Linked DNA regions of Homo sapiens. The protein of the gene in region 1 interacts with the protein of each later gene in a biochemical or structural test. Each region holds a gene or a part of one and is shown in the gene's direction. Other genes may lie near its edges.

The links. The genes of interacting proteins can lie anywhere in the genome.
Region 2: the proteins of PTPN3 (region 1) and ITK interact in a test that uses a peptide from one of them, tested with the Homo sapiens proteins (one large-scale study listed by IntAct).
Region 3: the proteins of PTPN3 (region 1) and DENND5A interact in a test that uses a peptide from one of them, tested with the Homo sapiens proteins (one large-scale study listed by IntAct).
Region 4: the proteins of PTPN3 (region 1) and NRXN3 interact in a test that uses a peptide from one of them, tested with the Homo sapiens proteins (one large-scale study listed by IntAct).

The regions. Positions count from the first base shown.
Region 1 is NC_000009.12:109,403,521-109,408,581, reverse strand, and holds part of PTPN3 (tyrosine-protein phosphatase non-receptor type 3), read left to right. Parts: intron 1-204; coding exon 205-261; intron 262-1,963; coding exon 1,964-2,120; intron 2,121-3,973; coding exon 3,974-4,134; intron 4,135-5,061.
Region 2 is NC_000005.10:157,246,840-157,250,339, forward strand, and holds part of ITK (tyrosine-protein kinase ITK/TSK), read left to right. Parts: intron 1-2,010; coding exon 2,011-2,168; intron 2,169-3,500. UniProt on the Homo sapiens protein: Tyrosine kinase that plays an essential role in regulation of the adaptive immune response. Regulates the development, function and differentiation of conventional T-cells and nonconventional NKT-cells.
Region 3 is NC_000011.10:9,262,551-9,266,846, reverse strand, and holds the start of DENND5A (DENN domain-containing protein 5A), read left to right. Parts: upstream 1-1,496; 5' UTR 1,497-1,777; coding exon 1,778-1,886; intron 1,887-4,296.
Region 4 is NC_000014.9:78,967,873-78,971,372, forward strand, and holds part of NRXN3 (neurexin 3), read left to right. Parts: intron 1-300; coding exon 301-474; intron 475-3,500. UniProt on the Homo sapiens protein: Neuronal cell surface protein that may be involved in cell recognition and cell adhesion. May mediate intracellular signaling. Functions as part of a trans-synaptic complex by binding to cerebellins and postsynaptic GRID1.

The DNA.
Region 1 (5,061 bases):
CAGAGGGGTCAGGAATTTGTTCCATATTTCTGAAATGACGTGTGATTCGAATCAGTCATAGTGAAGTTTGAAGCCTCCCTGTACCAAAGACTCACATTTATTGGTACCTCCATGTTGTTGATGCTGTGAGCTACTCGTTTTTTTGTTTGTTTGTTTGTTTAACTTAAAAAACTTTGTTTTGTTTTTATTTTAAAATGTTTACAGGGAGGAGTGGATCAAAAGATGCCTCTTGTGGTATCAAGGATAAACCCAGAGTCACCTGTAAGTAAATACATTCCATGTTATTCCTCGTGTTTGTTTGTTTCCCCCTAATTCTAACAGGTTTCTGTTTCTGAGTCCTGTTTCTTTTTTTGCCAGAGCAAAGAATGTGCTTAGATATACATCACCATGTTTTCTATAACCTTGCGGCTCAGTGTGGTCTTTGAAGCCATAGCACCCATGTTACCTGGGACCTCATTAGAAATGCAGCATCTCTGGCCTCAGCTTAGGCCTGCTGAACCGGAATCTGCATTTTTAACAAGAGCCTTGAGTGGTTAGTGTGCATTCAATTTTGAGAAGTCCTTTTCAAGAGAAGGAAACTTAGGCAGTCTGCTGTTCTGCTCACTCTAAGTGGGCACGTGGGCCCTGTGCCTCTTCTCACCATCTTTCCACCAGTGCCCCTTTTGTCATCTGTGTAGGCCTCCTAAGAAGAGCATTTGCTTTGTTTTTCTTTCAAATTTATTTTATTGTTTTTAGGCCAGGCATAGTGGCTCACACCTGTAATCCCAGCACTTTGGGAGGCCGAGGAGGGTGAATCACTTGAGGCCAGGAGTTTGAGACCAACCTGCCTGGCCAACAGGGTGAAACCCATCTCTACAAAAAATACAAAAATTATCTGGGTGTGGTGGCACACAGGTGTGATCCCAGCTACTCAGGAGGCTGAGGCAGGAGAATTCCTTGAACCCAGGAGGCAGAGGTTGCAGTGAGCTGAGATCACGCCGCTGTACTCCAGCCTGAGCGACAGAGTGAGACTCTGTCTCAAAAATAAAATAAATTTATTTTATTGTTTTTAAAATAATATCAAGTAATTTTTTCGTTTAATTTTTTTATTGTGCATACTCAAGGTGTACAACATGATGTCTTGTTATACATATAGTACTGCAGTCAAACAAATTAACATGTTCATCACTTTCCATAGTTAACCTATTTTTCTTTTTTAAGAGACAGGGTCTCGCTCTTGCTCTGTCACCCAGGCTGGAATGCAGTGGTATGATCACTGCAGCCTCAAACTAGGCTCAAGCGATCCTCCTGCCTCTGCCTCCCAAGTCGCTGAGACCACAGGTGTGTCCCACCTCACCTGGCTCCATAGTTACCTTTTAATCATCTGCTTTTTTAAAGCAGTAGGAGTCACTGTGCCTCCTTACAGTGAACCACGTTGGGATTTTACTCTGAGGTAGTCCTTAAGCTCTTGTCATTTAACTTTTGTTACTGTTTACAGTTTCTGTAAATTCAGAAGGCTTTCTTTCCTGTGCTGTTCAATTCATTGCTTCTCTCCATAATGGTTTTTGCCTCTGTTGTGAAGCTTACAAAAGCTTTCACCTTTGCAAGACAGATAAATACTCACCTCTAGCTGGCAAATCATTTCCTAACAGTACATCTAGGAAACAAAAGGCTGGAAATGGTATAGTTATATTATAATAAGTGAAGGTTGACTACCACGGAGAAATGGCTTCAGCAATTTTTATATCCTTATTCTGAAATGTTTCATAACTTATATTCTGAGCAGTACTTCTTTATATCTTACAACCATCTACCATGTCCACATAGCAGTGGATGCATTATACAAATAATGACAGTACTACCCGAGGGAGAGAAGGCAAACTTGATCATGGTCCCAGGTGTCTGGGAGCAGAGCGAGTCAGCGTTCTTCCCCCAAGGACTGTGTTATGGTAACAGGAGAAACTCGCTTTTCCCCACCACCCAGGCGGACACCTGCATTCCTAAGCTGAACGAAGGGGATCAAATCGTGTTAATCAATGGCCGGGACATCTCAGAACACACGCATGACCAAGTGGTGATGTTCATCAAAGCCAGCCGGGAGTCCCACTCACGGGAGCTGGCCCTGGTGATCAGGAGGAGAGGTAATGGCCACCTGGGGGGAGGAGCCATAGGGAAGCTGTCCTAGCCAAGCTGCGCCTGCTCCAGCCCTTTATCTGCTCTTGAAAATGTTGAGTTTGTAGCCAACATTTGAAAATCAAGAATCTTCAGGTAATAACCGAATGTTTGGCTTCTCACTTGAAAAATGTGAAGATCTGCCCCCAGGAGGCCTGTCCCCATGTGGCCAGTCTTCTGGGGGGAGACAGCGCCCCTGCAGCCCCTTTATACAGGACATGAGCCCCCAGCTCCCAGTTCCTCCCAGGCCCAGCGCAGCCCACATCACGCACTCTCTAAGTGGCATGACTCTGCAGACATTTGCATTTTCAGCCCCTTCTTAAAGGATCTGGTGATATTTTATTCGTGCGTGTTTGATTTTGTCGGGGAGGCAGTGAGGAGAGCAGGGTCTGACTGTCTCGGGTGATTCCTCACTCTGCCTCTGCGGGCTGGGGGACCTTGCAGGGGTTACATAACCAGTCTGTGGTTCAGCTGGCTCAGGTGTGGAGGAGGACAGCAGTGGTCCCGACTTCACAGGGTTGCTGTGAAGATTAAATGGCACTTGGGGCCAGGCACAGTGGCTCACACCTGTAATCCCAGCACTTTGGAAGGCCAAGGTGGGTGTATCACTTGAGGTCAGGAGTTCAAGACCAGCTTGACCAACATGGTAAAACCTCATCTCTGCTAAAAATACAATAGCCAGGCATGGTGCCATGTGGGTATAGTCCCAGCTACTCAGGAGGCTGAGGCAGGAGAATCGCTTGAACCCAGGAAGTGGATGTTGCAGTGAGCTAAGACTGTGCCACTACACTCCAGCCTGGGTGACAGAGTGAGACTCCATCTCAATCATTCAATCAATCAATGGCACTTAGACTGGAAAGTACCTGCATTGCTGCCTGATGGGAGCAGAGGTTTGAAGGACAGCCTCTACTGAGCATCACACTGTTGTCTTTATAGTTGTTGTTATAAAATAATACGTCAAGTTCCTTGAACACCGTGCACAGCTGTAAAATACTGAAAGTAAATGAAGGTTGTGTCTGCAAAGCCCTGCGTCTCTGCCTGCCTCACACGTTTGGCTGACACTCCATACTGCTGTGCTCCTGCCTCGGCTCTGCTCCCACTGCAACTCTCAGTCCAGAGCCACCAGGACCAGCTCTGACCCCACCTCCTCCGTGAGGCCTTACCAGATCTCTCCGGTTCCCCACCTGTGCAAGGTTGGGAGTTGTGGGGGGGTGGTCCTAGCTTTGCTTTCACCTGTATTGAATTTAACATGAAGGGAAAACGTGCACTAAAGAGGTAAGGCTGAAGCACAGAAGAGATGCTAGGACTACGATATTTACGTGGGAGCCTCCCACATAGAAACGGCCCTGAGTTAGGGATTGAGCTCTCAGGAATGATGGTGTCACAGGAAAAGCTTGGGACCTCACCCTCATGCCTGAGGAAATGCCCATTTTAGGGAAGTAAATGAAAAAACCTGAGAAAGAAAGGGGAGTCGGGATGGGTAGAAGAATAACCCGGTCAGAAAGAGCAAGCAGAAACAATATGCTTTTTTAAATAACATTCTTTCTCTTTTCTTTACCTTTGACAAAAGCCTCTGAGTGTTAAACACCATTATTTAAAACTAACCAGGAAGATTAGTATGTCATTTTATGTAATTAACACATATTGAATCATTCACCTAGAAGTAGTATCTTTGGTGAAAATGATTACCATGTAGCTTAATCATTTAATAAGATGTTTTGAACCATCTGCATTCAGGTGTCATAGGTGTGATTTGTTTGAGGGAGACGGATAAACCTGAGTATTGCTACACAAGTCAGATGCACTGTCTTGTACGTTACAGCTGTCCGCTCATTTGCTGACTTCAAGTCTGAAGATGAACTGAACCAGCTTTTCCCCGAAGCCATTTTCCCCATGTGTCCGGAGGGTGGGGACACTTTGGAGGGATCCATGGCACAGCTAAAGAAGGGCCTCGAAAGCGGGACGGTGCTGATCCAGTTTGAGGTAAGACCCTCTGGAGGCTGAATCCCACTGCCATGTCGCCTATTGGGCTGCCCCTGCCTCTGAGCAGTGGAGGAAATGAGGCAGAGACACAAGCCCTTGTTTCCTTGGTCGAGATGATTGTGTGTTTCACAAACCAAAAGCAGTCAACTGAGTCTCTGAGGACTGACAGGGCGAGGCCTGTGCTTGTCGTGGATAACAGGGCACAGCAGGCAGCCCCCTTCTCAGGCTCGGAGCAGCAAGCAGGGATCAGGGTGGCCACCCTCGCTGAACTCTGTCTCACCCTCTTATTCTAGTAACATTTGGTAGTCATGGAGAAACATGCCAGAAACTGAGGAGGAGGGACTCTGAGTGTATTTAACTGCCAACACAAAAGCTCAAAACTCCCAGCAGTGGAAGGCAGTGGAGAGGTGGCTGTGGGTGAAGGAACCAGCTCTCTGACCACCCCCAGCCATGTGCTGGAATTTGGAGCAATTAGTGTTATCCCATGAGGGCATAGTGTCTCGCCCTCCCAAGTTGCCCAGAACCCTATAAACACAAGTAAGAAACCAAACTCAAACCCCCATCTTCCCCAGGGGAACCTGTGATTCATAGGATTCAGGCTGTTGACAAAGGTACACACAGACATTTTTTATAAAACAAAAGGGAACCAAAGGAAACTCAGCTTTTAAGCCAGTTTTACTGATCACTAACAGAATTAAAATAGAATGTGTTCATCTTCCAAATTTATTTTCTTATTTTTATTTTTTAAATATGTTGTTGTCGTTGTTTAAAATAGAGACAGGGTCTCACTGTGTTGCCCAGGCCAGTCATGAACTCCTGGTCCCACGCCGTCCTCCCGCCTCGGTCTTCCAAAACGCTGAAATTACAGGTGTGAGCCACCACACCCAGCCCATCTCCCAAATTTATTTAAAAGTAGAAGAAAACAGA
Region 2 (3,500 bases), on another chromosome or scaffold:
CAGGCAATGAAGCTGGTAGGCCATCATAAGGAATTAGAATTTCTAAAAAGTGCAAATGGCCATGAAGGGATGAATGATGTTGGTATTGCAGGATGTGCCAAATGTTCTTGCTGGATTTGCCATGTCACCTGAAGTCATAGTTTGTGCATACTAAAGTGTGCAAAAAAATATACCAGACAACCTCTTTGATTTGGATTACAAGAATTATACTGTGGACAGAAACTACTTGAAGATTGATTTTTGCCATTCGGTATGAAGGAAGGGTTTGACAAGGGCTTACTAGTAGTAGAAACCAGGGGGGAGTTTGGCTAGGTAAATCTTTTAGGAGAAGAATGAGTGTTAAAAATCTTCTGCAGCATTTTAGTCTATCCATCTCTAGGAGCCAAGTGGTTTGTTCATTATGAGTCCTACCTATTTCTTAAAACAGTACCCTATTAACCAACCCTTGCAGCTACTTTGTTAACCAGGTTTAAGTTACAGAATGGACTTGAAAGAAATTGTACTAACAGCATTTTTGGATGACTCCCCTCTCCCCAGTGTGTATAACTAGGAAGGTTGGGGCTGATGTGCAGTCATCTCACTATGGGTGATGAAACTGATCACACTGCACCAAGCAAGCAAGGGCCCCACAATGAGACATTTGGAGCAATGGCCACTTTAGCACATTCACCTTCTGACTCTGAATGGGGTTTATTCAGCCAAAGGGTGTCAGCCTGGGAATTTCCTGGGGCATATTACCATTACAGGGTTGGGCTGAAATTAGTCCCTGTCTAGGATATATTATCTGAAGAGAGTCCAGAAATGAGGTTGATGGATGGATGCAGAATTGAGAGATCAATGGAAAAAAGTGTGAAAAAACTGGGGGTACCAGCCTAAGCAACAGAAACCTGGATGAGCTGAAAACTCCATGCCTGCATCAGCCCATTGGACTTTGTCCTACGTTTTAAGTTTCTTTGCCCTAATTAGCAGTGTGCTATTCAGAACAAGTCAACCTCTTTGTACTTTGCTCAATTTTTTTATCTATACATTTCTCATCTGTGTATTAAAGCAATCATTCTGAAACCATGTTTCAGCATCGGCACATTTTCAAAAAAATTTTCACTAAAAATTATGGTGTCTTGGGGTGATAAGCATTCTTATTTAGGGTCAGGTTCTGAATTTCCAACTCCTGAGGCACCTCTGAGTAACATCTAGAGATTCTGATCCACTGGGTTTGGGCTAGGGCCCAGGAATCTGCCATTTGAACAAGACTCTGAGATGATTTTTATTCAGGTGTTTTGGGGATCATGCTTTGGGAATGTCTACTCTAAGATTCTCTGGAACAACCTTTGAAAAGCTCTGAATTAGCTGATTTGCAAGCAGCCTTCTTGCTCTGACAACCTGTGAATATATCAGCACATGATAAAGACAAAGCTAGGTGTCACATTTCTACCAAGGGCAGAAGAGGAAAAGAAAGGGATTAAATCAGAGGTCAAAAATAGACAAGCAAAAGATGTGTTTTGCTTGGTCTACATGGCATTTTTTAAATTCAAGAAGTTCAACTCTTAATTTTTGACGTCTTTTTTAAAAAAATCAGAAAATGTGCCAATTCTGATCCCTCATTTTCATGTGCCATACTTTGGTTGGAGTCAAATCATAGCTGTCTCCTTAAGACAGAACTGTTTATCTCATTTTCCACAATCCTCCCCAATCCCAATAGTGTCACACCTCCTGCACTCCATTCATTTACATCCTGCATCTTGGCATTTGAGTCTACAACTCTTAGTTGTAGCATTTGAGTTTGGTACAACAAAGGGTCCATCTTGAAAATCCTTCTCCACTACAAAGGTTGGGAAATTTCAGTTCTTTAAAAATAGGACAGGCCTAATAAGCCTCAGGTAGACTTGATGCACTTCTGGAGGTAGCACATGAATCCTAATGCAAGGAGTCTGTAATTTCTAGAGGCAGGTTGGTTTGTTTGCTGTCTGTGGGCTTTGTCATTCACTGTGCTGTGCTCACCATTTCTTGTAGGTGTGCTGATGTGGGAAGTTTTCAGTGAAGGCAAAATCCCGTATGAAAACCGAAGCAACTCAGAGGTGGTGGAAGACATCAGTACCGGATTTCGGTTGTACAAGCCCCGGCTGGCCTCCACACACGTCTACCAGATTATGAATCACTGCTGGAAAGAGGTCAGTGGAGGAAGTGCTTCCCCATGCATTGTCGTATACAATTTGAGGACCTCCCTCCTTCCCTAGAGAAAGGAACCCTCTCAGAAGGATGAGGCAGGAGGGATAACTAATATAGATTAGCAACAACATGACTTTGAGGATCTGTTAACGGGATAGATCCCCCATCCCTAAAGGAGCTGAAGGCGACCTTAAATATTATTTGGTTTGCTACATAATGTCACAAGCTATAAGCATAGCTTCAGAGAGGAGGATGGGGTGTGGCCTATGCCAGCTTCCTTCTCGATTTTCTGAGAAGAGAAAAAAAGTCTGTAACATCATAAAACCATTAAAAGCACAGGAAGTTAGTTCTATAACTTGGGGAACAAAGTTCACTTGCACTATGAAAATATTAAAATGGCTTAATTTGAGTTCATTTTATTCATTCTGCATTTAAAATGGGGAGCCAATTCCTCTGTACCCGCCCAGGTGGCTCATTTACCCCAACCTTGGATTGCAGGCCATGGCTTGAGCCCCATCACTATGAGTCTTAGTCTTTGCTGTCTTTGCTGAGTTAGAAAATCATACATTTCAGCCAAAGTGGAAAGTTGCTGAAACAGAGAATTAATAAAAATTCTGATCATTGTACGACAACAAGGTGGAATACAAAAAATTTGGAACACTAGGATTTTGTCTCAGCTTTACCATTTATTTGCCATTAATCTTTGACAATTCTCTGAACTTCCTTTTTCTTACTGTTAAGAGAATTAAATAATGCTTGGTCTGTGAGTTCATAGAGCTTTTATAATCAGAAACAAAGAAACAATAGAGACATAAAGGAGGGCATAAAACAAATCTTATCCACTTCATAAGGATTAGCTACAATAATAATAATGATGGCTGACATTCAGTTGGCACTTTTTCCCTCTTTTAACCATCATTTATTGATTTTTTTAAATTAATAGTCTTTATTTTTTAACAAAGAGTACAGAGTTCTCATATGCCCACCTCACCTGAACAGTTTCCCTGTTCACTAACATTTGGCATGAGTGTGATACATTTGTTACAATTAGTGAACCTCTATTCATACATTAACTAAAGTTCATAGTTTACATTAAGGTTCAGTCTTTGTGCTGTAGAGTTCTGTAGGTTTTCACAAATTCATGTATCCATCATTATAGTATCAGACAGAATAGTTTTACTGCACTAAAAATCTCCTGTGCTTCACCCATTTATCCCTCTCCTCATCCCCAAACCACTGGCAACTACTGATCTTTTCACTGTCTTCATAGTTTTGCCTTTCTCAGAATGCCATATATTGGCATCATACAGCATGTAGGCTTTTCGGACTGGTTT
Region 3 (4,296 bases), on another chromosome or scaffold:
GGAGAACCTAGGAGAGAGCCTAGGCTCAGCCTTTGGGGAAGCCAGCTGCCTTCTACAGCTCTTAGTGGCAGCCTCCCAGAACAAACCGTAAGAGTACTTCCTTCTGGAACAATAATAATAATCCAGGCTGGGGGCTCATTGGCTCATGCCTGTAATCCCAGCACTTTAGGAGGCAGAGGAGGGCGGATCACCTGAGGTCAGGAGTTCGAGACCAGCCTGACCAACACGGTGAATCCCTGTCTCTACTGAATACAAAAAATTAGCCGAGTGTGGTGGTGCGCGCCTGTAATCCTAGCTACTTGGGTGGCTGAGGCAGGAGAATCACTTGAACCTGGGAGGCAGAGGTGCAGTGAGCCGAGATTACGCCATTGCACTCCAGCCTGGGCAACAAGACAGAACTCCGTCTTGAAAAAAAAAATCTGTAATATTTACTGAGTGATTTCCATGTTCCAGGCAGTATTCTCATTGTTTTACCTGTACTTGCATTTACCTTATGTAATTGTCTCAAAAACCATGACGCCAGGCACTTAGAGATTAACTTGCTCAAGGTCAAAAGTAAATGATCGTCAGGATTGAAATCCGAGCATTTTTTTCTAGAGCCCATGCTAGTGACCACTATACCTGTGTTGCCTTTCTGGCCTCTGATCTCCAGTTTCCAACAAAGACACATCTGCCTAGCTTCTATGGGAAAGGAAATCGGAGGGTCCTAGGACAAGGACCAATAGGTAAGTTTCCCTTCGCCTCCTCCCTATCCTCTTACAGGAAAACAGGTTTAGGGGTGGATCTGAGAGTTTTCACAGAGTGAAGAGGAAGAGGAGCTCCCAAATGGCAGGCGCCTCTGGAGGCTTCCAGAGAAAAAAGGAGAGAGCGTGGGAAAAGGGCAGGCTGGGAGGTGGGAGCGGCGAGGAACGGGGAGCTGACCACAAGCCCAGGATTCCAGACCAGGCTTATGTCTCTTAGACTCAGCGTAACCTTGGATAAGTCCTTGCTTCTTTCTGAGACTCAGTTTCCCCGTCTGTAAAATAAGGGTAAATATAAAACCGGCTCATCCGCCCCTGCCAAAAGAGAGGACAGGGAGAAGGCCCTGTCTGGGGTCTAGGCTGACACGCTGCAGCTAGGATTAGGTGAGCTTCCGAGCTCAGTCGTGAGACCCCATCCTCATGGCAAGGCCGCGCTAAGATCTCTGGACCTCTGCTTGCTGGGTGGGTGGTTGGGGGCAGAGCATGGGCCAAATGCCCGGCTCTGCAGGCTGCGCCCACTCTTCTCGCACCTCCTCAGCCCTCCCTAAAGGAGTCTCAATCCCGGGGGAGTGGCAGTTGCGGGCGACCAAGCAGTCACCGGCTGCGCTGCGGCGACCTCCCGGGAAGCTGCGGCCGGCGGGGTCCGAAGAGCATCACGTCATCCTTTCCCCCAGGAGCCCGCCCCCTCCCAGACGGCGCCTGCGCAGGCGCGGTAGGAGGAGGGTCACGGTGGGGGCTGTCCACGCGCTCTCCGCCCTTCTCCAGGCTCGCTCGGGCCGCGGCGCTCTCGGCTAGCTGCAGCGGCGGCGGCGCGGAGGGGAAGGCATCCAGGATGCGGTGCGGGGCGGCCCGGTGCCCCCCCGCCCCGTCACGGCAGCCGCGGCGGCCGAGGGGACCGGGCCAGGGCCGGGGGCGGCGGCCCGAGCCGCGGTAGCGGCGGCGGCGGGAGGGGCGGCCTGAGGGCGGACGGGCGGGCGCCCGGGTTGCGGGGGCTCGGTGCCGCTCCGCACTGCCCGGCCGGTCTCGGCCCCGGCGCCATGAGTGGCGGCGGCGGCGGAGGGGGCTCGGCGCCCAGTCGCTTCGCCGACTACTTTGTCATCTGCGGACTGGACACGGAGACCGGGCTGGAGCCGGACGAGCTGTCGGGTGAGTGCGCGCCGAGCCCGGGGCGCTTTCCCGCGCCCGCTGTCGTCGGGGACCCCAGAAGAAACCTTCCTTCAGCCCCGCTTTGTCCCGGGAGCCGGGCGAGTGTCGGCCGGGAGGACCAGGGCGGGCGCGGGCGAAGGGGGCTTTGGACTGGAGGGGGGAAACGGATGAGGGGCTCTGAGCCATGAGGGGTCCAAACCTACGGCCCGCTGCGCAGTGGCCACGTCTTCGGCGACCAGAAAGAGGGAGGGTTGTGTGTTCTCAGTTTGGTGTAGGTTGAGTGACTTCGTTTAAAATAAAGGAAAGCTTGTCCTCTGGCACCCATTAGGGAGGGAAGGCGTCCCACGTCCTAGTGAAAGTAAGTTCCACCCAGACTTAAAAAAAAGGAAAACAAAAACTTGGTGAGTTTATCTGGCCACTTCCCAAGAAGCTTGTGATACTAGTTCCTCAAAACCGTTATACCCCAGCCCTGGGCTGGGCCCCCTGAGTCAGATTGCAGCTCTGCGCGTCTGGATGGGATATGAAGTAATAAAGTGAACTTGGGCGGCACCAAGAAGAGTAGGAACTCCCTTAGCCTTGGAAAGGGCTTGTATCCCGGGGCCATGCCTTTTTTGAAAAGTAATTTATGTCCTTTATGAGGACAGAGGCGTTTGTGAATAAAAGGGTAGCAGCATTGTAGTTGGAGAGGCTTGGTGTGTTCTGATGCGTTTCAAGTCATATTTGAAAGGGAAAGTGATGAGGGGAGTCAAAGATGGGGCCCTGACCAGATTTGGCACTCACTGCAGAAGGCCGTGAAAATTATACAGTCCCCGTGAATTTTCCACTGCACTGTCATTGGAGTCTTTGAATTGTAACAGTTTTGAAAATAAGTTTTTGTCTGGAGTTTCCAGTTAGTGGGTTTCAAGTGGGTGGAGGTTTGTCGGGTTGTACTTTAAGGTTGTGTCATCCTGATGAGGGGGACTCCTTTTCACTTTTCTGTCACTGTAAAGTTTCTCTTTCGAAAGTGATTATCCTGTTGACTAATCTTACTCGGCTTCAACGATGACAAGACAGTTTTGTTTTTGGGCACCAGAAAAAGTCCAGTGTTTCTTTTTTTTTTTTTTTTTTTTTTTGAGACGGAGTCTCGCTCTGTCGCCCAGGCCGGACTGCGGACTGCAGTGGCGCAATCTCGGCTCACTGCAAGCTCCGCTTCCCGGGTTCACGCCATTCTCCTGCCTCAGCCTCCCGAGTAGCTGGGACTACAGGCGCCCGCCACCGCGCCCGGCTAATTTTTTGTATTTTTAGTAGAGACGGGGTTTCACCTTGTTAGCCAGGATGGTCTCGATCTCCTGACCTCATGATCCACCCGCCTCGGCCTCCCAAAGTGCTGGGATTACAGGCGTGAGCCACCGCGCCCGGCCCAGTGTTTCTTATGAAAAAAAAATTAGGCGGGGCGCGGTGGCCCACCACCCGGCGGCTCAGGGGTAATCCCAGCACTTTGGGAGGCCGAGGCGGGCGGGTCACCTGAGGTCAGGAGTTCGAGACCAATTTGGCCAACATGGTGAAACCCCCGTCTCTACTAAAAATACAAAAATTAGCCGGGCGTCGTGGCGCGTGCCTGTAATCCCAGCTACTCAGGAGGCTGAGGTAGGAGGATCGCTTTAACCCAGGAGGGGGAGGTTGCAGTGAGCTGAGATTGCGCCAGTCTGGGTGATTGCGCCACTACACTCCAGTCTGGGTGATAAAGCGAGACTCTGTCTGGGAAAAAAGAAAAAGAAGAAAAAAGCATGATAAATTCATGCTTTAACAAGGTTAGAAAAAAATGAGCTATTTCCTCAATAGCAGGTGGAGAAAATATGAAGCAGTAATATAATTAATATTAGGCTTTTTGTCGGGGTAGTTTTATGGTTTCTAATTTACTTTAAAAAAATTTTAGTTTTAGGCCGGGCGCGGTGGCTCACGCCTGTAATCCCAGCACTTTGGGAGGCTGAGGCGGGCGGATCACGAAGTCAGGAGATCGAGACCATCCGGGCTTACAGGGTGAAACCCCGTCTCTACTAAAAATACAAAAAATTAGCCGGGCGTGGTGGCGGGCGCCTGTAGTCCCAGCTACTCAGGAGGCTGAGGCAGGAGAATGGCGTGAACCCGGGAGGCGGAGCTCGCAGTGAGCCCAGATCGCGCCACTGCACTCCAGCACTCTAGCCTGGGCGACAGAGCGAGACTCCGTCCAAAAAAAAAAAATTATTTTGATGAGTACCTAATAATTGTTCAAGTTTATCTTTTAAGGTCTTCAAATTCTTATAGTACAGATGTTTTTCATCTTTTTCATATGTAGTAAGTTTGTGACTTTGATGTAATTTTTGGAATTCGGTTCAGGGTATTGGTGTTGGAAGGGACCTCAGAGGGGAAAATGAGGCCCAGGAAGGACAGT
Region 4 (3,500 bases), on another chromosome or scaffold:
AAGCACATAAAAAGCACTCAATAAATGCTTGCTTTGTTGACAATATTGTTAATCTTTACTCCATCTATGATGAATAAATTTTTGAGATGGTATATATAAAATGAATGACACATAATAAATATTGGTTTCCTTTTTTTGCAGGGTAGAAACTCAGGTGCTTATCTCATTTATGCTGTCCCCCCCCCCCCCCCCCAGCTATCTTATTCCTTATCTGATGAATTATCTCAAGTGTATCAAACTAGTTGACATGGTCACCACATCCTTTACTCATTCTCTTTTGCTAATTACTTTCCTTTCCAGGTGATCTCTATATGGCTGGTCTGGCCCAAGGCATGTACAGCAACCTCCCAAAGCTCGTGGCCTCTCGAGATGGCTTTCAGGGCTGTCTAGCATCAGTGGACTTGAATGGACGCCTGCCAGACCTCATCAATGATGCTCTTCATCGGAGCGGACAGATCGAGCGTGGCTGTGAAGGTACAACCTATTTTTTTCTTGTTAAGCTACAGCCTTGTTGCAAGCACCAAGCCTCTTTGCTGCCTCTGCCACTGCCTCCTTCCTCAGTTGACCAGTCCTGTCTCATTCTCATTTGCCACGTGACATTGCATCACCATCAGTGTTCTCTTGTCACTGGTTTAGTATGTCAAGACATGTGCCACAGGCTCCAGGAATGTATGTTGGCAGATGTTTTCTGAGTATCACATACTTGCCAATAAAAATAAAATAAAATAAAAAACTTCCCTGGCATTGACATCAGGCTTCTTTCAATGTGTACCTTGGCTTCCAGAATGGCTGAAACAGCACTGGAGACTTTTATTTATACTTTAATACATGATGAGGGGAAAACCAGAGATTTTATGTAGATGTCACTAATTAATAAAATGTTTCTTATTTTGGCTGATAGTGACTGCATTATTTAATGCAAATCTAGCAGGCAATAGGAAAACGATGTCCAAATGCCATGATGATGGAAGGGAACTAACATTTACTAAGTACTTACTAATTATCAGGCATTGCTAGGCAGTTCTTTAGTGTGGTATATTGGAACATTATGGGCTTTGATATTAGAAATACCTGGATTCAGCTCCAGGTAGTAGCTCTTGTTAGCTATGTGACATTTGGAAGGTGATGTAACTTCTGTAAGCTATATCTTTCTTACCTATAAAACAGGGCAATAAAACTTACCTTGAATGTAAGGAGATCAGAAATACACATAAAATGCCTGGTATGTAGTAGGTACTCGATAAATGGTAGGCTTATTGTTTACAAATATTATTTTATGTCAAACATCTAATAATACTGCATGTCTACCCATGCAGCACAACAAACCATGCTCAGCCTGTTCCTGTAGATGATCCACTGTCTCTTGAGATACTAAATGAATTTTACAGGTCTTCCTGAATCCAACAATTCTTTGCAGTGTAAACAATCTAGTTTTAACCAGCAGATGGCAGAAGTGAACACATTCAGCCTTCCCTAGTAGTCTTGGGTTGGCTGAAAACGTGACTGTTACCTAACTTGAAAGGCAAAGAAGTTGCCTGACCAAGGATCTATGTAATTATTTCCTTTTTTTCTTTTTGAGCCTTTTGGTTGAGCCTTATGGTCCTGTGTTTGCGCAATATATTGTGTTTCCTTGTATCAGTTGTTAATTTACCACATCAAATCTGTTCATTCCACTTCTGTGTTCAACTTCATGTATCGCTTCTGTTCTTAAACAGCTTCCATCTGGGTTAGCTCATCATCGTAAAGCACACATTTATAAAAGCTTCCTGTCAGCTTATCAGGCTGACTTGGAGTTATGGAAATTGTTTCCCTTTGCCTAAGAGTTATTTTTGTATTTTGCACTAGTAATAGGAATGTTCATTCCTATAACCCACTCCATTTTTCCTTTATCCAGAAATATTTCTTAAATTGTCTTGGCCAAATATGGTGTTTGTACTATGTAGTGTGTGTGTGTGTGTGTGTGTGTGTGTGTGTGTGTGTGTGTATAAAGGGACAGGAGGTTGGGAATCACTAAGCCCTTAAAGCAGCCACTTTGCTCCTAGAAATGAACAATTTCATTCAATCAGGGATTTTTGTCTCCTTGGCTTGCTTTTAGTTCTTTTGTGTATTAAAGGGCAATCCTGGAATAGACGTAGCATTTGGAATTAAATTGTATATAGTGTTTAGAAGATTGTAGAATGGCAGTAATTCCATTTATCCTGGAATAATTAATCATATGAAGTCAAATCACAATATAAGAGCACATATTAGAAAGCGTAAGATACTGGTCAAATGTTACAGAATTTTTATTATGCCATCAGTTCTTCAGATTTAAAAGTTAACAGGAATCATCCATTAACTCTATGTCAGTGTTTTCCAATAGATATATGTAACACATGCAATTATAAATTTCCTAGTAGCTACATTTTAAAAAGGTATAAAGTAACAGGTCAAATTTATTTTAATTTTGTATTTTATTCAATTTAACTAAATATACCCAAAATATTATTTCAGAATGTAATAGAGATAAAATTATCAATATTTTGCACTTTTTTTCACATTAAGCCTCTAAACTTGAGTTTGTATTTTATACTTGCAGCACACCTCAACCCAGGGGCTACATGCATTTAAAGTGCTCAATACACATGTCAATGGCTACTGTATTGGTAGTACAGGTATACAGAATACAAAAATTAAGGTGTAAATAAATAAAGCTATAGTATTGGATTAAAAGGAGGTCTAAGCTTTATAAAAGGGTACTAAAATGTATAATATAAAGGGAGAATGACCTCACTTAAGAGAGTTTTAAGAGAAGCAGTAAGAGCATCAGCAAAAAGAAATTACATAACGAGTTGGGGAAAATGTCCCTATCCCTATCTACAGCTCTATGTGCAGTTTGGCATTACTCATCACATGCATTACAGAGAGCTCCGACCTTCCTCTGAGTATGGTTGATTGTTCAAAGCCGGATATTGTGGCTTGATGGCTCCACCATCTGAATCTATGGTGAGTCCCATGAGCCTAATAGCACTGCACTCTATTGCCATGGAGATAATTACAACGGTTACCCACTGAGCATTATGCCTACCCCGCTGGGTGGGATGAAGTGGAGGGTGAGTGCTGAGGGAAGAAAGTCCTTGTTGATTGTACACAAATGACTTGGATAATTAGCCTAAGTGGCCAGGAAAAATGGCCCAAAATGGGTTAAGGCATAAATTACTGTCATTGGAAGTTTGTACCACTGTGAATAAGCCCTTGCAAGAGATCCCAGGAGCATTTTAGGGTTCTGTGTAAGATGGTGGGGAGGTAAAGGGAGAGCACAAAACACTGGAGACACTGCAAAAAGGCATCATTTTTATTCTGAATCTCTTGTGTAGAGCATGAGACCCCCAAGAAGGCCTTTGAGCATTAGGTAGTATGAGGACCACAGGAAACAGAACAAATTTCTTAATTTATCATTTCTTTTACATAGAACAGTAAACAAGTAGGGGATGAGGTTTTATAACTAAGAACTAAGACCA